5 separate regions of the Homo sapiens genome follow, and all the other regions are linked to region 4. The links come from fine-mapping of genetic effects on gene expression. A gene starts in region 4. Each other region holds a variant in brackets. All regions are shown on one strand. Distances are between the middles of the regions. Region 1 has its middle 46 kb from the start of PTPN12. Region 2 overlaps APTR (Alu-mediated CDKN1A/p21 transcriptional regulator). Region 3 has its middle 33 kb from the start of PTPN12. Region 4 holds the start of PTPN12 (protein tyrosine phosphatase non-receptor type 12). Region 5 overlaps PTPN12 (protein tyrosine phosphatase non-receptor type 12).

The links.
Region 1: its variant is fine-mapped to the expression of PTPN12 in whole blood (INTERVAL, PIP above 0.99).
Region 2: its variant is fine-mapped to the expression of PTPN12 in whole blood (INTERVAL, PIP 0.90).
Region 3: its variant is fine-mapped to the expression of PTPN12 in whole blood (INTERVAL, PIP 0.97).
Region 5: its variant is fine-mapped to the expression of PTPN12 in whole blood (INTERVAL, PIP 0.98).

Annotation. Positions count from the first base shown.
Region 1 is chr7:77,488,978-77,494,083 of GRCh38, reverse strand. No RefSeq gene overlaps it. Among named protein-coding and RNA genes, the nearest start is that of PTPN12, 46 kb to the left of the region's middle. The variant TA/A (reference allele first, on the strand shown) is at 3,171.
Region 2 is chr7:77,666,482-77,671,587 of GRCh38, reverse strand. The region is part of intron 1 of APTR (Alu-mediated CDKN1A/p21 transcriptional regulator); the gene reads left to right. Among named protein-coding and RNA genes, the nearest start is that of APTR, 27 kb to the left of the region's middle. The variant T/G (reference allele first, on the strand shown) is at 2,091.
Region 3 is chr7:77,502,028-77,507,133 of GRCh38, reverse strand. No RefSeq gene overlaps it. Among named protein-coding and RNA genes, the nearest start is that of PTPN12, 33 kb to the left of the region's middle. The variant G/A (reference allele first, on the strand shown) is at 2,189.
Region 4 is chr7:77,534,617-77,539,722 of GRCh38, reverse strand. PTPN12 (protein tyrosine phosphatase non-receptor type 12) reads right to left here and starts at 2,428. Exons shown (of 18, transcript NM_002835.4): 1 at 2,078-2,428. The coding sequence starts at 2,176. LOC124901681 (a long non-coding RNA gene) reads left to right here and starts at 2,774. Exons shown (of 3, transcript XR_007060395.1): 1 at 2,774-3,352; 2 at 3,442-5,106. RefSeq lists silencers at 1,889-1,938, 2,079-2,288, 2,539-2,838 and enhancers at 2,909-3,128, 3,299-3,348.
Region 5 is chr7:77,564,194-77,569,299 of GRCh38, reverse strand. The region is part of intron 1 of PTPN12 (protein tyrosine phosphatase non-receptor type 12); the gene reads right to left. Among named protein-coding and RNA genes, the nearest start is that of PTPN12, 29 kb to the right of the region's middle. The variant C/A (reference allele first, on the strand shown) is at 2,483.

The DNA of each region.
Region 1 (5,106 bases), 46 kb after region 4:
CCACGGCTGGAGCAGCTGGGACACAGGGCACAAAGTCCCTAGGCTGCACACAGCATGGGGACCCTGGGCCCAGCCTATGAAACCACTTTTTCCTCCTAGATCTCCAGGCCTGTGATGGGAGGGGCTGCCACGAAGACGTCTGACATGCCCCGGAGACATTTTCCCCATTGTCTTGGGGAATAACATTCAGCTCCTTGTTACTTATGCAAATTTCTGCAGCTGGCTTGAATTTCTCCTCAGAAAATAGGATTTTCTTTTCTTTCATATTGTCAGGCTGCAAATTTTCTCAACGTTTATGCTCTGCTTCCCTTATAAAACTAAATGCCTTTAACAGCACTCAAGTCACCTCTTGAATGCTTTGCTGCTTTGAAATTTCTTCTGCCACATACCCTAAATCATCTCTCTTGAGTTCAAAGTTCCACAAATCTCTAGGGCAGGGGCAAAATGCTGCCAGTCTCTTTGCCAAAACATAACAAAAGTCACCTTTGCTCCAGTACCCAACAAATTCTTCACCTCCATCTGAGACCACCTCAGTCTGGATTTTATTGTCCATGTCATTATCAGCATTTTGGTCAAAGCCATTCAACAAGTCTCTAGGGAGTTCAAAACTTTCCCACATTTTCCTGTCTTCTTCTGAGCCCTCCAAACTTTTCCAACCTCTGCCTATTACCCAGTTCCAAAGTTGCTTCCACATTTTCAGGTATCTTTTCAGCAGCACCCCAGTCTACTGGTACCAACTTACCTTATTAGTCCATTTTCATGCTGCTGATAAAGATATACCCGAGACTGGGCAATTTACAAAAGAAAGAGGCTTATTGGACTTAGAGTTCCAGATGGCTGGGGATGCCTCACAATCATGGTGGAAGGCAAGGAGGAGCAAGTCACATCTTAAGTGGATGGCAGCAGGCAAAGAGAAAACTTGTGCAGGCAAAGTCCCATTTTTAAAGCCATCAGATCTTGTGAGACTTATTCACTATCACGAGAACAGCATGGGAAAGACCTGCCCCCATGATTCAATTACTTCCCACCGGGTTCCTCCTGCAACACATTGGAATTGTGGGAGTTACAATACAAGATGAGATTTGGGTGGGGGCACAGTCAAACCATATCAGCTGCCATATGTATTATGACAACTGTGGTAAATTTTATGGAGAAAATTAAAACATGGTAGTGAAAATGAGAATTTTGTGGGATAGCTTAGGTTACCATTTCAGTAGAATGACTCTTCCTGCAGAGATTCTAATAGACAGCTTGAGCGTTCCATGAAGTCTCTTCTTTAATTTGTCTCTTTGTTTTAGCACTTTAAAACATTATTATTTTGTTTTGAAAACATAAATTACTTTGGGGCAGGTTTTTTTTTTTTTTTACTATTTATTCAGATATCTATTGAGAAAGATTTTTTGTGAAGTGTAGTACTCACTTGTATGTTTTCTAAATTATTATTTAAAATTATTTCTGTAACTAGCAAGCTGTATTTGGAGTGAATGCATGTTTGACTAGTATCCATCCATGCTTGTCAGATAGAAGGAACTGCACAGCATTCATTGTAAGATGCAACAGGAATAAACGCAGTTTGTAAAGTTATAGGGATGAATTATAGTCGCATTTTCCCTAACTGCTCATCTCAAAATTAGTCACACAGGTTATTCCCTTAAACACACATCCTAACTCCAAAATAATTGGTCACAATAATTGGTCACAAAATGATCTTTCCTTTTTTTTTTTGAATGCTTGTTCATAATGAGATCTTCAAAGGGAAATACCATGTTCATCTTTATTGTCATTGTTTTCATATTATAGTTGTTCAGTAAATATTTGTTGTCTAAATTAAAAAAAGAAAACTATATGAGTCTAGTTTGGGAAGAACATTTTATATTGTTAATAATACAAACAATTAAAATAATGATAGGCAAGGGATTTAAAATATCCAGAAAAAGGCCGGGCACGGTGGCTCACGCCTGTATTCCCAGCACTTCGAGAGGCCGAGGAAGGCTGATCACAAGGTCAGGAGATCAAGACCATCCTGGCCAACATGGTGTAACCCCATCTCTACTAAAAATACAAAAATTAGCTGGGTCTGGTGGTGTGTGCCTGTAATCCCAGCTACTTGGGAGGCTGAGGCAGGAGAATTACTTAAACCAGGGGGTCGGAGGTTGCAGTGAGCTGAGATCGCGCCACTGCACTCCAGCCTGGTGACAGAGCGAGACTCCATCCCCCCAAAAAAATTCAGAAAAAGTTTCAGACTCTCATAAAATGTATCTGGCTATTTAAACCAGCCATTTGTATTTCTGATAAAAGCAGGTGCTTCTGGTCAAGTTCATATGTATTTATTTTGAACATTGGCTTTGGGAACCCAGACAGCTAACTCTATAGTCCATAGTTTTATACATGCCAGGTAGTGCATGTGGATCTAACTCCATAGTCCATAGTTTTGTACATGCCAGGTAGTTTTGATCATAATGGGTAATAAAAGATGAAAAATAAAATGTTGAAATGCAAGACCTATATTTAACCCCAAAGCATAAACCTAACAATTTTCTCAACTCCTGTCCCTTGTTTTTGTGGTAAATTTTGTGTGATGTTACTTTGAAATAGACGAGGAGCCTCTCCAAAGACAGTCAGCAAAAAGGATGACATTAACTTTAATGAGGCTCTCCTATGAGAGACAGTATGAGGTATTATGCTGGACATTTTTAATAGTTTGTTTTTTGTTTTGTTTTGTTTTGAGACAGAATCTCACTCTGTCTCCAAGGCTAGAGTGCAGTGGCGTGACCTCGGCTCACTACAACCTCTGCCTCCCGGGTTCAAGTGATTCTCCTGCCTCAGCCTCCCAAGTAGCTGGGATTACAGTCACCCATCACTACGCCCTGTTAATTTTTGTATTTTTAGTAGAGACGGGGTTTCACCATGTTGGCCAGGCTGGTCTTGAACTCCTGACCTCAGGTGATCTGCCCACCTCGGCCTCCCAACATTTTAAATAGATTTTACATGTTGAATATCCCTTATCCAAAATGCTTAGGACCAGAAATGTTTCAGATTTTGATTTTTTTCAGATTTTTGAATATTTGCATATACGTAATAGGGATATTTTGGGGATGGACCCCAGTCTAAACACAAAATTAATTTATGTTTCATAAACACCATATATATATATATATATGTATGTATAA[TA/A]TATATATATATGGCCTGAAGGTAATTTTACACAATATTTTAAATAGTTTTGTGCATGAACAAAGTTTGTATACATTAAACCATGCAAAAGCAAAGGTGTCACCATCTCAGCCACTCATGTGGAAATATGTGGTTGTTTGGCATCACCATTGTTCCTGACTCTGAATTTATATGCTACCAAAAAGCCATCATTTTCTTATACTTATCCACATATAAATACTTAACAGTAAAAAAAAATGACTTACCATTAATACACTGAAAAATAATGTGTTCAGGATAACAAAGCAGCACAGTTGCATCACCAGAATATCTGTACTGGCTGCTAAACAACAGCAGCTACAAACAACAGCATGCTTGCCGTCTCCACCTATGATGCTGTGTTTTCATTAAAAGGTCACTGTATGCTGGGCGCAGTGGCTCACACCTGTAATCCCAGCACTTTGGGAGGCAGAGGTGGGCAGATCACGAGGTCAGGAGATCAAGACCATCCTGGCCAACATGGTGAAACCCTGTCTTTATTAAAAATACAAAAATTAGCAGGGTGTGGTGGTGCGCACCTGTAGTCCCAGCTACTCAGGAGGCTGAGGCAGGAGAATCACTTGAACCCAGGAGGCGGAGGCTGCAGTGAGTCAAGATCGTACCACTGCACTCCAGTCTGGGTGACAGAGTGAGACTCTGTCTCAAATAAACAAAAAGCAAAAAACAAAACAAAACAAACAAAAAGTCACTGTACAGGTATTTTATTTTATTTTATTTATTTTTAGGTGAGAAGAAACATCAGAAGCACTTGAAGGACCAGAAGGTGGGTGTTCTAGGGATGGGGAGGCAATCTGCAAAATGGCTTTTTAGAAAATTTCCTCCAGAGTTATCTGTCTCATTAACAATGGTTTTTTGTCTTAGAATTTTCTCTTTCATTTTATAAACTGACATGATTTGTTCAATTATGAATGTACACTGATCTAGTCCTTCAATAATCCATCACACGTTTTACCCATGTCTTCTATAGGCACCTTTTCTTTGGTGTTAATGACATCATCTTCATCGTCACTATTATTGTGATCATCTTGATCCAGAACAATTTCAGCTATTTCACCATTGGTCAATGAATGAACAACTGGAGGCTCATTATCAATGTTAAAAGCTTCTTTGATATCTACTTCTTCCAGCTTACTGATGCATATATATTATTATTTTGCATATATAAGGTCAGACATTCATGTTTTCCTCACTTGACATATGAAATCCTTCAAAGTCACTACTTAGTTCATCATCATCATCACTGCACATAGTCACAGGTTAGAGGTTGCAGGCATGCAAAACTGTATCTTTAGTCATTGTCTTCCAAGCATTGGCAACAGCATGTATGGCATCTTTCATGCTAAACTCTTTTTGCAAACCTTCCACACCCACACCTCTTGTCACTGCTGCTAGCATGCTGTTCAGGAAAGTGTTTTTATATTTACTCTTCATTGATCTAAGGATACCCTGGCCACATGGTTGAATTAATAAAGTCACATTTTGGGGAAAGTAGATGGCATAAACATTTTTGATGAGAATTTCAGCAGGAGGGTGAATAGAACAGTTGTCACGTGTAACAAAATCTTGCAGTCATCCTCCAGTTTAGCTTCCCTGCAGTGAGCATGAACTTCTGGTACAAAACATTGGAGCACCAATCAGAAAATATGTCCCTGGTGATCTGTGCACTTTTGTTAGCATAATAATAGTCTGGTAAGAAATCCACTCCCTTAAAATAGTGAAGACATAAGCTTTTGCCTGTCACAGCAAGTTTACAATGTGTTTGTGTGCTGCATTAGCATATCCCAGTACAGTTATTCTGTCCTTGGCATCCTTAATTCCTATAGGGGCTTTCTCATCAGCTGTAGTCAGTGTCTTCCTGGGGCAGTAACACAAAACAGTGATGTTTTATAAGCATTA
Region 2 (5,106 bases), 130 kb before region 4:
GGCATCAGTGTGAGACCATGTCTCTTTAAAAAAAAAAAAAAAAAAAAAAGCATTAGTGTCCATCTTTGGGGCCTCTTCCTTGGTTCTTCCCCAGTTCCAAATTCTAAACAAACCTGGACACTGGATGTGAGGCACTGTGGGGGATTCTAAGAGTAAAAATACACAACCAGTGCCCTTCGGGATGTTACAATCTAGGAAGGAGAGAAAGATACACAAATAGTGAAATATAAACCCAAGTGTTAAATATGCTCTAAGAAAAGTAAAATGTGGCCAGGCACACAGGCTCACACCTGTAATCCCAGCACCTTGGGAGACTGAAGCGGGAGGATCACTTGAGCCTAGGAGTTTGAGACCAGCCTGGAAAACATGGTGAGACCCCGTCTCTAGTAAAAAAAAAAAAAAAAAAAATTAATTAACTTAAAAAAAAAATAAAGTAAGCCCGGCTTGGTGGCATGAACCTGTAGTCCCAACTACTTGGGAGGCTGAGGCGGGAGAATTGCTTGAACCCGGAAGGCGGAAGTTGCAGTGAGCCGCTGGAGGTTGCAGTGAGCCAAGATCGTGCCACTGCACTCCAACCTGGTGACAGAACAAGACTCCGTCTCAAAAAAAAAAAAAAAAAAAAAAAGTAAAATGTGCTAAAAGCCAAGTTCCCAATTGTCTCCTGGTTACGGAGAAATAGATGTTCCCAATAACTCTCACGGTAACTATGGTTGGCATAAGGTGCATTTAGACTAGCTTTAACAATTATTTTCTCATTGAACTTCTTCACTCAGATACTGCAGTATTTCCAGACAGGTAAGTACCCTAACCTATGTAAAAGTCCCCTTAGCGCTTGTTTTACCTTCACCCTAGGAAATCTCACATTCAGAGGATACCTCATCAACATCATCTGCTCAGATGTCCTCTTGCTCAGCACTTGCAACATTAGTGAAATAACACATTGGTATGTCACTTTTTTGTTTCTTTTTTTTTTTTTTTTTTTTTTTTGAGACGGGGTTTCGCTCTTGTTGCCCAGGCTGTAGGGCAATGGTGCAATCTCACTGCAACCTCTGCCTCCTGGGTTCAAGCAGCCTCCCAGGTAGCTGGGATTACAGGCGTGTGCCACCATGCCCAGCTAATTTTGTATTTCTTTACTAGAGATGGGGTTTCACCATGTTGGTCAGGCTGGTCTTGAACTCCTGACCTCAAGTGATCCACCTGCCTTGGCCTCCCAAAGTGCCAGAATTACAGGCATCAGCCACTGTGGCTGGCACCCCACCTCCCATTTTATTTTTTCTTTAGCAGAGACGAGGTCTTGCTATGTTGCTCAGGCTGGTCTTAAACTCCTGAGTTCTCCCACCTCAGCCTCCAAAAGTGCTGGGATTACAGGCGTCAGCTACCATGCCTATCCACATTTTGTTTTTTTGTTTTGGTTTGGTTTGGGTATGTCACTTTTTGATATTAGGTGATCCAAAATAATTTATCTTGGTATGCAAGATGTTCAAGGAACAAACATCTACAATAAGGTACCAAAGTTTTGAATTATTTATCTGTGTATATGTATGTATACCCACACAGACCATTATGAGGCATTTTAGAAATCACTTTCTCACATGCATTCCAATATAATTTCCTGAGAGAGAAAGGAGTTCCATGCAGGGAGTTATACATAAACCACAGCCTACTTTTATGGCCATTTTGAATTACTTTTGTATTTCAAATTCACTTTTTAAAACTTCACCCATGGGGCGGGAGGATTGCTTGAGCCCAGGAGTTCGGGACAGCAGTGAGGTATGATCATGCCACTGCACTCCAGCATGGGCAACAAAGCAAGACCCCCATCTCTAAAAAAATCAATAAATAAAGGAAACTTCACCCATACCCACAGAAGAGAAAATTGTGAATGAGTGCATCAACATCTACAGTACACAAAAACAGTAGTCTCTGAACATTGTTAGTAGGGTCCTAACAGTTATGATAGCCAAGTGAAAACTCTCAAAGGAAAGTGAAAATATTCCTTATATCAATAACATGGAGGGAATCTACCAATTTTATGTTTTTAACAATAAATTTTATGCCTTTTCAAATAATGTGTACTTGTTTTATTGGTG[T/G]TGTGAGTAAAGGCTGGGGGAGAAATCATGATATTTAAAAATTAGATATGCTACATTTTGGCAATTCTTACATAACTGATTTCACTATTGTTGAATTCTTAACATTAAGTGAACATCTTTTGTTTTTCTTTTTGTTTTTTGTTTTGTTTGACAGGGTCTCACTCTGTCATCCTGGTTGAAGTGCATTGGTGCGAACACAGCTCACTGCAGCCACAGCTTTCTGGGCTCAAGTGATCCTCCCCCCCAACTTCAGCTTCCCAAGTAGCTGGGACTGCAGGTGTACGCCTGCCCAGCTAATTTTTTATGTTTTATAGAGGCAGTGTCTCGCTTGTTGCCTAGGCGGATCTTGAACTCCTGGGCTTAAGTGATCCTCCCACCTTAGCCTCTCATAGAGTTGGGATTATAGGTGTGAGCCACTGGACCCAAGGCTTTTCTTTTTTTGAAACAGTCTCACTCTGTTGCCCAGGCTGGAGTGCAGTGGCATTATCAGAGCTCACTGCAGCCAAGACTTCCCAGGTTCAAGCATCCTCCCGCCTGAGCCTCCCTAGTAGCTGGAACTACAAGCACTTACCATTACACCAGAATAATTTTTTTAATTTTTAATTTTTGTAGAGATGGGGTCTCACTATGTTGCCCAGGGTAGTCTCGAACTCATGGGCTCAAGTGATCCCCCTGCCTCGGCCTCCCAAAGTGCTGGGTTTATAGGCATGAGCCACCATGATGCCCAGCCTTAAGTGAATATTTAACAAAATGATTTTGTAGTATTATTTTCTTCATTTACTAATAAAATTGTTGCAGGGTGTTTTTTTTTTTTTCCTTTTTTCCCCAAATTTGAGTACATCCATGGAAATACATCATACAGATAAACATCATCCATTCTTTGTGATAATGTGGAAAAAAGATTAAGAAACTGCCCTTTAATACTATTTGTATTAAAGAGTATTATTTGGGGATATTTGGGGATAGTTGAGAAATCACTAACCGTTGATGGAAATTTGATTGGGTTTTTTGAGGATAGTCCAAAAGTCATCAAGTACCGATGGAACTTTATCATTCTAAATTCCTTAGAGACTTAAAATTATTTCTTGGAAACTTAAACTTCAGGCTAATGTTGTAATATCACAAGCATCCATGAACGTATCATTTTAAGTAAGAGGTGGTATCTTCTACTCTCCTCCTCTTCAGTCCAGGCCACTGTGATAATGTGCTTATAGATGTGGTAATGCCTCCTCTTGGTACCAAAGCCACATTCATTAGCTTTGTCAAAATAAATGATACCAGTGATACTAATTTCTTGCACTCTCAGTGATGGAACAGGATTTCAATGAAACAGTCCCTTTAGTTTTTACTTTTTTATCACAGCCCCCTTAAATTACAACCCCCTTAAATTAGAACTCTGGTGTGAATCTGTATGAGCTAGAATGGGTGAGAGGTTACCAGGACAGACCCTCGGAATTATCCTTTCACTCAAACACTGGCCTAGGCAGAGATCATTCTTCATGATCTCTGTGCATTTCTGCACATCTGGTGAGTGAAGCACTGACTGCCCTTCTTTCAGGACTCTCTCTTCAGGGATGTTTGTAGAGCAAACAGTCTTAGAGGATAGGAATAAGGTTTTCCAGAGCAAAGGGCAAGCAAGTTTATTGCCACTATAAAAGATTCAGGCTCCTGAAGCTGAAGGTTCCCCTTCTGTAAAGCAGCCCACTGCAAGGGCAGATGCCATCTGGCCTTCTTTGCCTCTCCCTATGGAAATTGGGACTTTGCTAACTAATGCCAAAAACAAACCACAAAACTGATACTCTGGCTATTGCTATGGCTATTGCTGTGAGTAAGAAACTCTTCATTCTGGCTCAGGACTATGATATCTTCTGCCAGCATCCATGTGCCAGGCGAACTTTTTAGCTTGTAAGTTGGGTGAAATCTGAGATTGTTTACGGTTTTTCACATTGCCTTAAACCAAATGCACGCGCTCTGACTCCCAAAAGGCTATTTTGTCCCTTATGTGAATATATCCTCCGGTGGACTAACTCCACCAGTGTTCCAGATGGACGCCCCCATGGCTGAGTCCTAGAGGGAACAGAGCTTAGACTTAAATCGGGACCCCTGCTACACAACTCTGCCAGTGTAAATTATTGTCATTATCCAAAGGCAGACTTCTCACTGTGCTCATTATGATGCCTATGTCACAACTAAGGAGGCCCTCCCCCTTGACATACACTCTGCCTCTGTCCTGCCGCTTTATATCCCATGGCTCCCATGAAGTCTTCCTCAGTTATTCCACCTGTGTTAGATCTTTTTCAGTTGCATGGAACAGAAACTCAACTTATAATTAAAGATTAAACGCTGGCTAATGACCAAAAACTAAAGTGATGAAGACATTCATTACTTGGTTTGTTTATCCTTGTATTCTCACAGTTAATTTCCTTGATTAAAAAAATATATATATATACTGACTGACGGGGCGTGGTGGCTCACATCTGTAATCCCAGCACTTTGGGAGGCCAAGGCAGGTGGATCACTTGAGGTCAGGAGTTCAAGACCAGCCTGGCCAACCTGGTGAAACCGTGTCTCTACTAGAAATACCAAAAAATGGCTGGGCACGGTGGCTCACAGCTGTAATCCCAGCACTTTGGGAGGCCGAGGTGGGTGGATCACGAGGTCAGGAGATCAAGACCATCCTGGTCAACGTGGTGAAACGCCATCTCTACTAAAAACACAAAAATTAGCCAGGCATGGTGGCACGTGCCTGTAATCCCAGCTACTCAGGAGGCCTAGGAAGGAGAATCGCTTGAACCAGGGAGTCAGAGATTGCAGTGAGCTGAGATCGAGCCACTGTACTCCAGCCTGGCGATAAAGTGAGAGTCTGTCTCAAAAAAATAAAAATAAAAAGAAGAAATATGGCCTGGTGCAGTGGCTCACGTCTATAATCCCAGCACTTTGGGAGGCCAAGGCGAGCAGATCACCTGAGGTCGGGAGTTCAAGAATAGACTGACCAACATGGAGAAACCCTGTCTCT
Region 3 (5,106 bases), 33 kb after region 4:
TGAAAAAAGAACTTACCACTAGATTCCTGTATCAGTCAGGAATAGCTTCAGCTGTGAGTAAAAAAAAAAAAAAAAAAAAAAACAAAAAACAATGGCTTAGTCTAGAGCTGAGGTGGCCTGGTACTCTTGTAGCTTCCATTCCCAAGGTCACCTCTTGTTTCAGCTGGGCTACTCCAGCCATCACAACCATATTCCAGTCTGTCTGAAGGAAGAAAAGAATAATCGGGGGCAAAGGACCCATCAGCTCTCTTATAAAGACGGTTTCCATGAACTGCCATACTTTGCTTACCTATAAGAAAGAGAAAAGCATGGCCAGGTACAGTGGCTCACCATGCTTATCCCAGCACTTTGGGAAGCCAAGGTGACTGGATCACTTGAACCCAGAAGTTCAAGGCCAGCCTGGGTAACATAGTGAAACCTTGTCTCTACAAAAAATATAAAAATTAGCCGGGTGTAGTGGCACACACCTGTAGTCCCAGCTACTAGGGAGGCTGAAGTATGAGGATCACTTGAGCCCAGGAGGTCGAGGCTGCAGTGAGCTGTGAGTGTGCCACTGCACTCCAGCCTGGGTGACAGAGGGAGATGCTGTCTCAAAAAATGAATGAGAAAAACAGCACCTGACATCTAAGAGCTGCCCGAGCAGTCACAGTAAAACTTGGTGTTGTCCTATTAAATATATGCAATTGCAAAGAATACCAACATTTGACAAAGCCATTCTGTGACCATGATGGATCGATATAAACACAAAACTACACCATAATTATGCCTGAATACAGACAAAAACATGAACATTGTCCAAACTGTAAAGTGACCAAACATCTCCCTATTTTGCCTAATATGGTTTGTTACCAATTACAGCTTTGACTATGTTTCATTTCCCCGACAATGTTTTAATATACCCAGTCATAGAATTGCCCTTGCTTCCTGATGGCATCCAATCCAGAGTAAAGCCCTGGTTCCTTCAGCCCTTCCTAAAACCACCTAAAGCAAGGCAAATCTTATTTAAAGCCTTTCTAATACTCTTTTTACTGAGACACCCATAGTTCCCCATGGTGCATGTTCTCTCTCATAACAAGGAGTAAACCCACCTTATTCAACCACTAGCATACTCCTGTGATTTTTGGGTGGAGGGCATTGACACGCATCTATCATTGGCAATAAATTAGTTACAGGGTCATACTCATTTGCAGGAGTTGCTGAGAAAAGCAGTCTTTTCCTTGGGTCATCAATTGCTCACTGAAAATTGGAGTTTCTATTGTCATACGAGGGAGGGTGTAAAGAGTCAACTAACCATCTCTTCCTCAATTTCCAAACTAAAGAAAGCCAAGAGGCTTTTAAAAATGTCACCATCAGTCCAGGCGTGGTGGCTCACAGTTGCAATCCCAGCACTTTGGGAGGCTGTAGTGGGTGGGTTGCCTGAGCCCAGGAATTTGAGAACAGCCTGGGCAGCAGAAAGAAACCCATCTCTACAAAAAAATTAAAAATAAAAAAATTAGCCAGGCATGGTGGCATATGCCTGTAGTCCTAGCTACTCAAGGAGGCTGAGGTGGGAAGATTGCTTGAGCCCAGGAGGTCGGGGCTGCAGTGAGCTGCGACACCACTGCACTCCAGCCTGGGCAACAGAACAAGACCCTGTCTCAAAAAATAAAAATAAAAATAAAAAAAATAAAGGTCACCATCTAAAATAAATGTGTGCTAAGAAGCAAGTTGAGTTAAGAAAATGAATAAATAAGCCATGTAGTTGACAGACTCAAGAAGCCAAGTTGTAGTTTCAATCTTTCTTTCAAAAAAGGGAAAGATGTCCCAAATGGGAAAAGCATAGACTCTACAAAGGAGGGCAGGCCAAGCACAAAATAGAAATCAGTTGGACCAAAACTAAATACAAAGAATATTCTGCAGAATAAGACATCCTTTGTAAGCTCCATTCCAACAGGAGAAAACAAACAAACAAGGAAATGATTGTTGATGTTAAGTGCTGTATAAATAAATACTGCTAATTCTGAGTTACCATTTAAGTAAAAATGGAGGGAGGGACTAGTTCTTTCTGGGAAATGGAAGAAATATTGGTGCCAGTCTCACAGGGGAGATATTATCTTAGCTGTGCTTTGAAGAATGGGTAGGAATCTACTAACATAATACAGGTTTTTAAGAAAGTAATTACAAATGAATGGATTATTCTGCATTGGGC[G/A]TACACAAAGGTTATCATTTTTGAAAAAGAATGCTGCCAATGTGATGAGGTTTTAAAATTAATTAGAGTGAGGCCGGAGCAGTGGCTCACGCCTGTAATCCCAGCATTTTGGGAGGCTGAGGCAGGCGGACTGCGTGAGTCCAGGAGTTTGAGACCAGCCTGGCCAACGTGGTGAAACCTCATCTCTGTAAAAAAAATTTTTTTAAAACTAGCTGATTGTGTGGTGCTTGCCTGTAGTCCCAGCTACTGGGGAGGCTGAGGTGGAAGAATCACCCGAGCCTGGGAAGCAGAGAATGCAATAAGCCAAGATCGCACCCCTGTACTCCAGCCTGTGCAACAGTGAGACCCTGTCTCAAAAATAATAATAATAATAATAATAATAATTTTTGTCTAGATTTTCCTGTTGAGAAGTTGCCTTCAATGTCCTTGGGTCAGCTCTTTGTGTTTTTATTTGCTACAGGTAAGCTCATTAGACTTTTTTAAAAGGCAGCAAACAGATATTGCTGGGTTCATCACTTAACAAAAAAAGTCATTGTTATAAACTTAGTTTCATGAGTGTTTCTTCAAAGATGCTTGTTAAAGTCCCATCAAAGAAAGGATCCCATGGCCTAATGAAGATGTACCTCCACCTTAGGATATTTTGCAGACCAAAATAAGACAGGAGTGGTGAAGAAGTAGAAAGAGAACAATGTTCTCTTGTATGTTGGTCTGCCACTAAATGCAATGTTAGATGACTGATTTCTATAGTTAATGAATGGTAATAGTAGCTAACATTTTTGATCCTTTATATGCATTATTTCATTTGAATTAATACATATAACAACTCTATAAATTAATTATCATTCATTCTGATTTACAGATATCCAAGGTCACATAGCATGCAAGTGGCAGAGTTGACATTTAGACACAGGCATTTAAATTTTAGAATTTGAACTGTTAATCATAAAGCCTATGATACCTTCGATTTACAACATATACTAAATAATATACCAGTATATTATTTGTAAGTGAAGAGTCGAGTAAATACTGTGTTTAAGGACAAAAAAAAAAAGAGAGAAAGAAATCAGCTGTTTTGAGCAAACATATGTCAAACACTGTACTGGGTGCTTTCCTTATATTATCTCATTTATTTATTTATTATTTGAGGCAGAGTCTCGCTCTGTTGCCCAGGCTGGAGTGAAATGATGGGATCTCAGCTCTCTGTAGCCTCTGCCTCCCAGGTTCAAGCGATTCTCCTGCCTCAGCCTCCCAAGCAGCTAGGACTACAGGTGCATGCCACTGCGCCTGGCTAATTTTTGTATTTTTAGTAGAGACAGGGTTTCACCATGTTGGCCAGGCTGGTCTCCAACTCCCAACCTCAGGTGAACTGCCCACCTCAGCCTCCCAAATTGCTGAGGTTACAGGGGTGAGCCACTGCACCTAGCCTTATAATTTAATTTAATTTAATTTTCAAATCACCTGTTACAAATCACCTCCTACAAAATAGGTACAATGTTTCAGTCCCATTTTATAGATATGGCAACTAAAATTCAAAGAGCTTAGATAACTTACATGAGGTAGCTTCAGGTCTGTCTGACAGTAACATTGATGCTGTTAATCACCGTGAAGTGCTGCCTACATATTCACAGTTGTGTTTCAACACTGAACAAGGTATTTGCAATTTTTGGTAACATTTCTAGGTTAAGTCAACTTTTAGCTTTCTACATTTTTTAATTTTATTCAAAACATTTACAGGTTTATCATATTGCCTACAAATGTCACTTAGAGAATGGAGAATCATTTTAATATTAAAACATAATAAAAATTATTATATTTGCTCAGAAATCATCTGATACTTTAAGATATGCTAAAGCTAACTATAAATGACTTTTAAATTATGCTATTCTGGATAATTCACAACAGTATTCCCTTCTGTTAATGGAAATGTAAAATTAATAGCATCTTTTAAATCCAGAGTTTATGTAAAGTGCAGTCACAAATCACAATTAATAACCATGCCCCTCTAACTAATGTTTTCCTCATTTGAGTTTTGGATGTCACAAAATACCAGAATTATAGAATCTGAAAGCTGGGCAAAAGTTCTTAAAATTACGTAGTCTAACATCATTTTACAGATGAGGAAACTGAGGCTTCAAGAGGTTAAAATAATTTGCCCAAAGTGATGAAACAGGTAGTGCCAAGGAGTGGCTGGAGGAGGCCTTCCTACTGTCAGCCCTCACCCAGCCATATTAAACATAATACCGTCTAAATAAGTAAACACACTATCTAAATAGAAATGAGCTTGCTATGTAATAAAACTTGAAGACCCTAAAATCTATTGGAATCCCCCCCCCCAAATCACTTCAGATTTACTTAGATAAAAACAGTGTGCTTGTGTGCAATCACAGATCATATCGCGGTTTTTTTTTTTTTTTTTTTTTTTTTAGACGAAGTCTTGCTGTCGCCCAGGCTGGAGCGCAGTGGGGCGATCTCAGCTCACTGCAACCTCCGCCTCCTGGGTTCAAGCAATTCTCCTGTCTCAGCCTCCTGAGTAGCTGGGACTACAGTTGCACACCACCACACCCAGCTCAGTCATGCCAGTGGTCATTCGCTTTCTACATATATTTTCAATGAACGAAATAAAGTAAAATACACTCATTATAAATAGTTTTTTAAAGAATGTAAAGGCTGAGCATGGTGTCTAATGCCTGTAATCCCAACACTTTGGGAAGTTGAGGAAGGAGCCCAGGAATTCGAAACCAACCCGGGCAAAATAGGGAAACCCTGCTTCTACAAAAAAAAAAAAATTTTTTTAAAGTAGCCAGGCATGGTGGTGCACACCTGCAGTCCCAGCTACTTGAGAGGCTGAGGTGGGAGGATCACTTGAGCCTGGGAGGTAGAGGCTGCACAAGCTGTGTTTGGGCTACTGCACTCCAGCC
Region 4 (5,106 bases):
TGGGAGGCAGAGGTTGCAGTGAGCTGAGATTGCGCCGCTGCACTCCAGCCGGGGCGACAGAGCGTAGAGCGAGACTCCGTCTCAAAAAAAAAACCAACCAACCAACCAACCAAACAACAAAACCCAAAAAAACTAGTTTTAAACATCTTAAATATTCAAAGTATTTTCTTCTACTTTTGCTAGAAAGTAGTAAAAAAGGGACTCCATCCAATTGCTGTAAATGACACCATTCAAAAGATACCAAGACAATAAAAACTCTCAATAGTAAAAAGGGAAAATGCCGTTTTCCTTAACCCTTTCAGATCAAAAAGTAATTTTTCAAAAATACATAGGCTAAATATCAAGAGCAAATGTTTAAATATAAGCAATATTTTTATTTTTAATAAGGAATAAGTTAGATTATTTAACTTATATTTTCAATCTTCAAAAGATACTGAGAAAACTTTACTTCCGTCCTCTATTATTGGTCTGGGGAGGCGGGAATCACAAAGCTCAACGATGCTAGTATAATACTGTGTATGGTCAAGGGCCTATTTTATAAGCTGTTAAAAATTTAACGCTAAAGCTTTACTAGACCAGTCTCTTTAAAACGTGAAAAAGTATTCACTACTAAGTCATATCACCTCCACCATAAAAACTACTGTACTTTTTAAACAAAAAATAAAAACTAGCCAATGTTTGCTGCCCATTCATTTTACAGGCATTAACTGTGTATCCTTCTCATAATCAGATTTCAGAATTAAGTGATTATTCTTCGAGGTGTACCTTACCCAAGATAAAAATTTTCCCCAGCTTATTTCCCATTCCCAACCCCCGCCAAGACTAAGGAGCAACCACTTCCCAAAGTCCCACTTCCTTTTTCATTCCCCAGACCTACAGGGTTTCCAACGCCCCAGTCTTGCGCAATATCCGTAGGAGCAGCAGCCGCAACCACCGCCTCCTAAGCCGGGAAACAACCCTAGAGGGAACATTGTCCAGCAGAAAAATAAAAAGGGCGGGGGTTGGGGGGGTGGGTAACGTAGGAAGTCGACTTCTGGTCTCACGCCTTCGGATCTGACCCCCTCACAGTGTGCTAAAGCAATAGTGTATCTAGAGCAATTTCATGAACAAGACTTTTAACCTTCACCTCCTCTCAAGACTGCCTGCACAAGCAGAGGGCGGAAAGTAGGGGGTGGCGGAGGCGGGGGGGCGCTGGGAAGGTTATCTCCCAGTTCAGGGCTTCGGCCCGTAGCGTCGCCTCCGCCCCACCAGGACTATTGTTCCCAAGTTCCCCACCCCCACCCCGGATAGGAAGTGATAGTCACATCCCCTCCGCCTTCGGCAATATCCCCTGGGGAGTCCGAAGTCGGCTGGCTTCCTTCAGGATAATTCCCCCACCCACACTTATCCCCTGAACCTATAGTCACACGGACCCCAAGACCACCTCAAACCTGGGCCTCAGGAGAGGAGAAGCGGGACGCGGGTAAATGGAAATTAGGTAAACCCATGAGATTCCTTATGGGCAATCCTTTCCCAAGCGTTGGAGATCATGACTGCGACCCCAGAAACGGCCTAAGTCCTACCCTGCCCGCTTTGAGACCAGCTAGAGCAAAGGGATCCCAGGAGTTAGTGCCAACCTCAATACCCCCGTTCCTCTGTCAGCCACGATCTGCACTCCTCCCGGTCACAGCCAGATACCTTGCCTCGACCCTCCTGGGAGGAGCGAACTGCGCGGGGAGGTGTGGAAACGCGAGCCCCCCCCCCCGGCCTGCACCTCACTTGCCTACGGCTCCCGGCCCGGTAAACAATAGGTGGTCGCGAGCCACGGTGCAGGCTGCGGGCTCGGCCGCGCGGCCGCTCCCTTCGCGTCCCGGGAACCCGCGCGGGGGTCGCGAACATGGGAGAAGAAAGGAGGCCACGGGGGGAGGCGCTCTCGCCTCCCGCTGGCCTCCGAGACCACCCGGCTCACCCGGCTGGTGCGCGCCCCCTCCGCCCCTCTCCTCACAGAGGTACACAAAGCACTGGCGGCCCGGCCGGGAGAGGCGGCGATGGGCTCCGGCGCCGGCAAGAAAACGCGACAGCGAGGGGAGAGACTCACCATGAAGTCCCGGGCGAAGTTGTCCTCCCCATTGTGGTCAGGACTCTTCATGGCCTGGACCCTCTGGATGAATTTCCTCAGGATCTCCACTTGCTCCATCCTCCCGCGTCCCCCCGGCTGCGGTCGCTGGCCCCCCCGCCGCCCGCCCGCCCGGCACAGAGCCCGCTCCGTCTTCCCCAGCTCGTTCCCCCAGCACGTCCCTCCCTCCCGACCCCGCCAAGCCCCGCGGCTCCCTCCTCCTCCCCACCGCCCTAGGCGGCGGCTGCGGCGGCACCGGCTGGGCTCCCGACACCACAACTTCCAGGAGCAGCCGCCGCTCTCCCACAGTACCAGGCGAGCCGCTGCGCTAGCGCCAACCCCAACCCCCAGCTTGCTCCATCCTCCTTCCCCGCCCTCCTCCTCCGTCGGAGACGCCGCCGCCGCCGCCGCCGCCGCCGCCGCCTCAGGAACACAGCTAGCTCTCCGCTCGCCCTGCCCCCCCTTCCCGGTTCCTCCTCCCCCCCACCCCCCGCCAGCAGCCGCAGCCGCAGCCGCAGCCGCCTCTCCCCACGGGCGCGTCCCCGCCGCCACCCAGATGCGCGGCCTCGCGCTGCGGCTCCGCCCCAAGCGCTGCGCCCGCAGATGCATCCCCGCCCGCCTCCCGGCCACGCCCCCAAGCCCGCCCCGCCGGCCCCAGCCCCGCTTGGAGTGGCTGGAAGGCACTTCAGCGGGCGGCCTGGAGACCTGACTCCATTTCCGGGGCGTGGCCCCGCCCGGGGTGCTCAGAGGTCGGAGTATCGCTGGGAGGAGAGTTGGTTCATTTGGAGGAGGGAATGCGACTCTGAGCGGGCCAAGCCCTAGTGGGTCAGAGTAGGATTCTGATGGAATTTGCGGTCTCACCGCCTACTAGGGAGGAAAAGCAGTTTTCAGGAGTCCCGCACCGCCGCCAGCCGTGGGCTGGGACTACAAGTCACGGTCTGTGGAGTCCAGGAGTGGGGGCGGGCGGGAGGCAGGCTGGGAGCTGTAGTAGTGTCACCGCCACGTTCGCAGCAGGTAGATGCTCATCTTGCTAACGGATTGGTGAGAGTGGACAGCAATTAGGCTTTGGCACCTTGGAGCGTGGCTCCAGCTAAGGGAAGCGAAACGCTTCCTGGGTGAGAGGACTTTTATTCTTTGCTCATCCTCTTAAACCTGGCGAGTGAGCGCCTGAGGTTCGGAGTGCCTTCTTCACAGACGACGCGAATGTGGGGTCTTCGTGTTTGCCGAACTGAAGGGAATTTGCCTTCCTGCCTTTAGGTTCGCAGCAGTTCATAACTGAATAAGAGACTTTCCTCCATAGAATGGACTTTATAAATCTATTAATTTTTTTTTTTTTTTTTTTTTAGAGCTAAGGTCTTGCTCTATCTCCCATGCCAAAGTGCAGTGCTATGATCACGGCTCGCTGCAGCCTTGAACTCCTGGGCTCAAGGCATCCTCCTGCCTCACTACGTCACCAAGCCCAGCTAATACATTTTAAAAATTTATTATTTATTTATTTATTTATTTTTGGTAGAGAAGGGGGTCTCACCAGGTTGCCCAGGCTGATCTCGAATTCCTGTGCACTAGGGATCCTCAGCTTCCGAAAGTGTTGGGATTTTAGGCGTGAGCCACCGCGCCTAGCCTATAAATCTTTATTCATCTTTGTAAACTTCTATCAGAGAATATATTCTGGTCTAACTCATCATTTTACAAATAAAGCGACTTCCTGACATCCCCCAGCGTATTCTTAGCAGAGCCGTAACTAGAAGTTATTTTACTTTCACAACAGTGGCCTCTCACAATGTGACAGAACTGAAGGATTTGATCCATGAACTGACTTTCGTCATTTATACCCACAAACCTTTTTTTACAGAGCAGATTGGTCAGCGAATTTGGTTATAATAGGAAATATCAGTGGTAGAATACTTTCTCAGATGAAAGTTAGGAGCACTATGGAATTTAGTGAAAAACTCATTGAAGAAAATAGGTGTAGGCCGGGCGCGGTGGCTCACGCCTGTAATCCCAGCACTTTGGGAGGCCGAGATGGGAGGATCACCTGAACCCGGGAGGCGGAGGTTGCAGTGAGCTGTGATCACACCATTGCACCCCAACCTGGGCGACGGGAGTGAGGCCCTGTCTCAAAAAAAAAAAAAAGAAAAGAAAATAGGTGTAACAGGATATAGTTTATTTACTTCTTCAAAAAAAGGAAAATATTTCTGTTAAAATAATCCAACTAATACATCCACTCCAGAAATATGCACTTCAGACCAGGTGCAGTGGCTCACACCTGTAATCCTAGCACTTCGGGAGGCCGAGTTGGGTGGATCACTTGAGGTCAGGAGTTCGAGACCAACCTGGCCGATATGGTGAAACCCTGTCTCTGCTAAAAATACAAAGCCGGGTGTGGTGGTGCACGCCTGTAGTCCCAGGTACTCCAGAGGCTGAGGCAGAAGAATCGCCTGAACCTGAGAGGCGGAGATTGCAGTGAGCCGAGGTCGTGCCACCACACTCCAGCCTGGGTGAAAGAGCGAGAGTCTGTCTCAAAAAATAAAAATAAAAAGGCCAGGCGCGATGGTTCACACCTGTAATCCCAACCCTTTGGGAGGCCGAGGCGGGCGGATCACCTGAGGTCAGGAGTTCAAGACCAGCCTGGCCAATATGGTGAAACCAACCCCGTCTTTACTAAAAATACAAAAAATTAGCCGGGCGTGGTGACGCATGCCTGTAATCCCAGCTAGTCAGGAGGCTGAGGCAGGAGAATTGCTTGAACCCAGGAGGCGGAGGTTGCATTGAGCGAGATCACGCCATTGCACTCCAGCCTGGGCAACAAGAGCGAAACTCTGTCTCTAAAAAAAAAAAAGAGCCTCCCTGCCTGATTCTCCTGCCTCCGCCTGCGGAGTGCCTGCAATTGCAGGCGCGCGCCGCCACGCCTGACTGGTTTTCGTATTTTTTTGGTGGAAACGGGGTTTCGCTGTGTTGGCCGGGCTGGTCTCCAGCTCCTAACCGCGAGTGATCCGCCAGCCTCGGCCTCC
Region 5 (5,106 bases), 30 kb before region 4:
CAATAGTGTACATTATATACACAGTGCAGTATGTATATATGTAATATATTACTACTGGTGTTAAAAAGAAATAAAAACATTTGCATTTGCTTGTACATATGCATATATCATCTCTGGAAGAAAAACTATTAACAAAGTATGTGTCTGTGGGGAAGGGAAATGGGTACCTAAGGGAAACGGATGAGAATGAGACATTACTATTATGTCTTTTCATATCTTTTGGATTGTATGACTGTATTGCCTGTTCAAAAAATTGAACGTAAATAAAAAAGGACAGTAGAAAAGATTGTTTATGATGTCGTTACTCCATATTAACAAAGATCCTCATGGTTACTTATATACGCATCTTGCACATTTAATTAGAATGTTTGTATTTTCTCTGCTCAAAGATTAAGCATCTGAAAAGATGTATTTTTAGATACTTATAGTATCAGTGCATTTCAAAATATTATTTTGAATCTGACTTAGAGAAGGATATCAACTTAAATAGTTGCAGAAACACAGAGGGGAAAGGAATATATCTTAGGTCAATGTCAGCGAGAAAAAATTTAGTACAAAGAGTGGTTGAGTTTAATTATAAAATGTGAATGTACCTCAGGAATGCCTGGTACAATCACTCTAAGCTTTTTCTTTTTCATTCATTCATTCACTCATTCACAGACGGAGTCTCACTCTGTTGTCTAAACTGGAATGCAGTGGCATGATCATGGCTCACCATAGCTTCAAACTCCCATGTTCAAATGATCCTCCTGCCTCAGCCTCCAAAGTGGCTGGAACCACAGGCTCATGTCACCATGCCCAGCTAATTATTATTACTATTTTTTGTAGGGCTGGGGTCTCCCCATGTATGTTGCGGAGGCTGGTCTCGAACTCCTGGGCTCCAGCAATCCTCCTGCCTCAACATTCCAAAGTGCTGGGGAATACAAGTGTAAGCCACCATGCCTGGCCCACTCCAGACTTTTCTTCTTTTACATGACAAATTACATTATTGAGAAATGTGCAAAACAAAGCTTTTATGTGAAATGACTACATTTCTCATAATGAACCTTGAGAACTTTTGCGTCCAAATATTTATCTTATTTAAGTTTGGATTTTCATTTATCCAGTTTTCTTAAAGCCTAGCATGCCATTTCTTAAAATGCTTTCTATAATTAAAGTTTAAAATGGAGAATGCTCTATTAAAATAAAAATCTACAATAGTGTTCTTAGCAATTTTCATGCCCATCAGAGATACAAAAGTGGTCCATAAAACAAGTAAAAACTTTGTTTTGTACTTTAAAAAGGTATCTACAAGTTGGAACTTATTTCCCACCAAAAAATGTCAGCTTTATAGTAAGCTACATAAATTAAAATTCTGGATCTGGTACTTTCTTAGCTGTGTGACAATTAACATATTTAACCTCTCTGTGTCTCATCTATAAAACTGAGATAATAACCTTTACTCAGCAAAAGGTCTAGTACATAAAATGGCTCAATAAATGTTAACTATTATTATTGAACTAATTACTGGAACTCTTTAAATGTTGTTACTTCAGATTTATTTCTTTAAAACCTTTCCTAGATCAAAGATCAGAAAGAGTTGCATATTCCAGGTCAATTTATCTGCCTGAAATTGCAAAGCAGTTTGTCAAATTTGAGTGTGCTTCAGAATCACCTGGAGGGCCACATTGCTGGGCCTCATCCCAGTAGTTTCTGATTCAGTAGGTCTGAGGTGGTAATTGCCTGATAATTTGTCTTTTTAAAAGTTGCTAAGATTCTACTTTAAAAAAAATCCCATGATAATCATTTTTCTGTGTCTTTGTGTATGCTTTTTCTTTGCTTGTTGGTGGTCTCCCCACTTGCACACCTCCAAAGCTTACTTATCTTTTAATTTTAAGCCCTAGCTCCTACAGAGTTTCTGATGCCCTTCCTCCAGACATAATCTTCCCCTCTGAATTGTTTTACCTTTATATGTACTTTTAGAACACTTACATTTCTTACTCTTATGATAAATATATAAAGAGAATACATCTAATTTGCCCTGTTAAACAATAAACTCTGTGGGTACAAAATTACCACCAGATTAAGATCTGATTTGGCCTAGAGCAGGTTTTTTTTTTTTTTTAACACATCAACATTAATGTCTAAATAGTTCCTGAATAGAAGTAGCACCAAAGTTCATTTAAACTCTATGAAACAGAATTATCTACACATATAATTTCATTTTAACTTCCCGACCACTATTCTATTGTCTCTGATGAAGCTATTACTAAGAAAGAAACAAAAAAATTCTGTATTATTGAGAAACATAATATACTAAGAAACCTTATTCATAGACTGTATGAGAATAGCACTAAACATTAATAAAATAATTCATTTATTATATAATTTAATTATTTCATATAATCCTAAAGCAAGAAAGAATTTTTAATCATTTACTGTATTAACTGGGCAAAAATATAGCTAAATGATGTCCGTATTAAGTTATAGGTACCCACCACAC[C/A]CTTTATCGTGTGACTTTTTAAAAAAAAGCTAAGAAAACAAACAAATCCTTTAAGAAAGCATTTGCAATTAAGTCTACCCTAAAGATCTTTATTGAGACAGGGACTCACTCTGTTGCCCAGGCTGGAATGCAGTGGTGCAATCACAGCTCACTGCAGTCTTAAACTCCTGGGCTCAGGTGATTCTCCCACCTCAGCGTCCCTTAGCGAGTAGCTGGGACTATAGGCACGCACCGCCACGCCTGGCTAATTGTATTTTTTGTAGAGATGGGGTTTCGCCACGTTGTCCAGGCTGGTCTCGAACTCCTGGACTGAAGCCATCTGCCCACCTTAGCCTCCCAAAGTGATGGGATTACAGCCATAAGCCACTGCACCAGCCTACCCCAGAAGTCTTTAAAAAGTCACATAAATGAATTCCAAAAATAACTGCACTCCTTTATTACTGTTCTAAAAAGTCAAGTCTGACCATTTTACTCCCACATTTAAAAACTCTCCTATGTGTCTATCACCTCTAACATAAACTACCAAATCTTTAATTATAAGATATGTTGAATGTTGCCTGTCCAATTTTCTAGCCTCTTTTTATAATGCTCTTATTAGAGTTTGATGCTTTAGTCATATAGAATTACTCACCACCACTATGACTAGCAGTAACCCTCCATTTCTTAAATATCAAAGTTGCACAATTTTTGCTCTTACTGGTGAGTAGGGCTCTGGCTAAAGTGTTATTTCCTTTTTGAAGGCTTTCTTGAACCTTCCCTCCTTTACTGCTCCTCAGCCTTCTGCAATGAGTCCATAACACATTGTTCTATTGCCACTTGTGAAAAGTATTTCTTAAGTATTTCAGTACTTGTCTGTCTCGTCCACTAATCTATAAAACTGAAGGCAGAGATTAGACTATCTTACTGGACTTTATAGACCAATAGCTAATGCAAAGCAAAACTCTCATTACAAATTGAAGAATTATTTACTGAGCCTTCTCAGACAAGTCAGAGAAACATTTTTAATACTTAGAATTTTTGATACAAACAAAATTCGAGTTTAATATTCACTTTGCTTTAAACAATTTCCTAAAACACTAAATTTGTATTCCCCTAATCCTAAATCAATAAATGGATTCTCAAAAGCCTCCAAAATCACATGCAATGTGACTTTAAGATACCCACTTGTGTGTCAAGATTCAAGTTCTTAAAAGAGTGGAACAGTTCATTGTTCATCTAAGCTCCTGAGAATGTTTAAAGTTTGTTAAATCTCTCCAGAGTCAAAGAGCTGTCTATTGGCCTGTCCACTGGATGTGTAATGGGCATCACAAACATGCCCAAATAGCACCACCATTCAACAGCAGTTCAAGCCAAAAACCACCACCATTCAACAGTAGTTCAAGCCAAAAACCTAACACTCATCCTTGATTTGTTCCTTTATCTCGCTCTTCTCCCCATCAGCAAATCTTGTTAGCAAAAATATAGCTAATTGTCTTCATATTCACTGAAGAGACTTTGAAGTGAAAATACATTTAGACAGACAAGCGTTAAATTAATTTGTTGGCTGGATTTTAAATCAGCACAATTAAGAAAACAATAAATTAACACAAAAAGAAACAGCACTAAAATGGAAATTAAGCTAACTGAAATTCCTTTCGGAATAAGATGGGATATATAGAAATTAAGTATCAAAGCTGAAGCTCTCTCATGCTCTGTTATTAGACCACACACCACTGCCTCAAATTCCTCAATGTTATAACACTTAAAACACAGTACGAGTTTCAGCTGGGTGCGGTGGCTCATGCCTCTAATCCCAGCACTTTGGGAGGCCAAGGCTGGTAGATCACGAAGTCAGGAGATCGAGACCATCCTGGCCAACATGGTGAAACCCCATCTCTACTAAAAATACAAAAATTAGCTGGGCATGGTGGCGCATGCCTGTAATCCAAGCTACTCGGAAGGCTGAGGTAGGAGAATCACTTAAACCAGTAAGGCGGAGGTTGCAGTGAGCTGAGATCGTGCCACTGCACTCCAGCCTGGCACAAGGGCGAGATTCCGTCTCAAAAAAAAAAAAAAAAAAAAAAAAAAAAAACACGACAACAAAAAACAACAACAAAACACAGTATGAGTTTCATAAGGCACAACTTTTAGTAAATATGCATATAAGAATATACAAATATTAAAACTATACTTTGTATAGTAAATAAAAATGGAAATTACTTTAAGCTTAAGAGTTATACTGTGGCAAAATATTAAGGCTACCTAACCCATAAAATCATACTCCTTTTACCTAATTGCTCCGGAAAATTTCTGAGGCAATTACTGGAGAATTCATCTGAATTTTAAACGGTAGCAGGTTTGGGACATAGTTCACATTCAATAACCATTGTTAAATAAATAAATTCATCTGGCTTTATATTTGAAAATTTTAACTGTCCTCAGTAAGAAAAACCACACCATCTTAATAGTATTAATTTAACCCTACAAACTGCATGATAACCAAACCAAAATTTCTTAAAACCCCAAATATAAATTAATAGCAGCATACAGTAAAATTAGAGTACCAGCCAAAGTAACACTATACTATCTCAAAGTAACACTGTATTATCACTATTTTATCTCTAACTTTACAAACATACTTACAT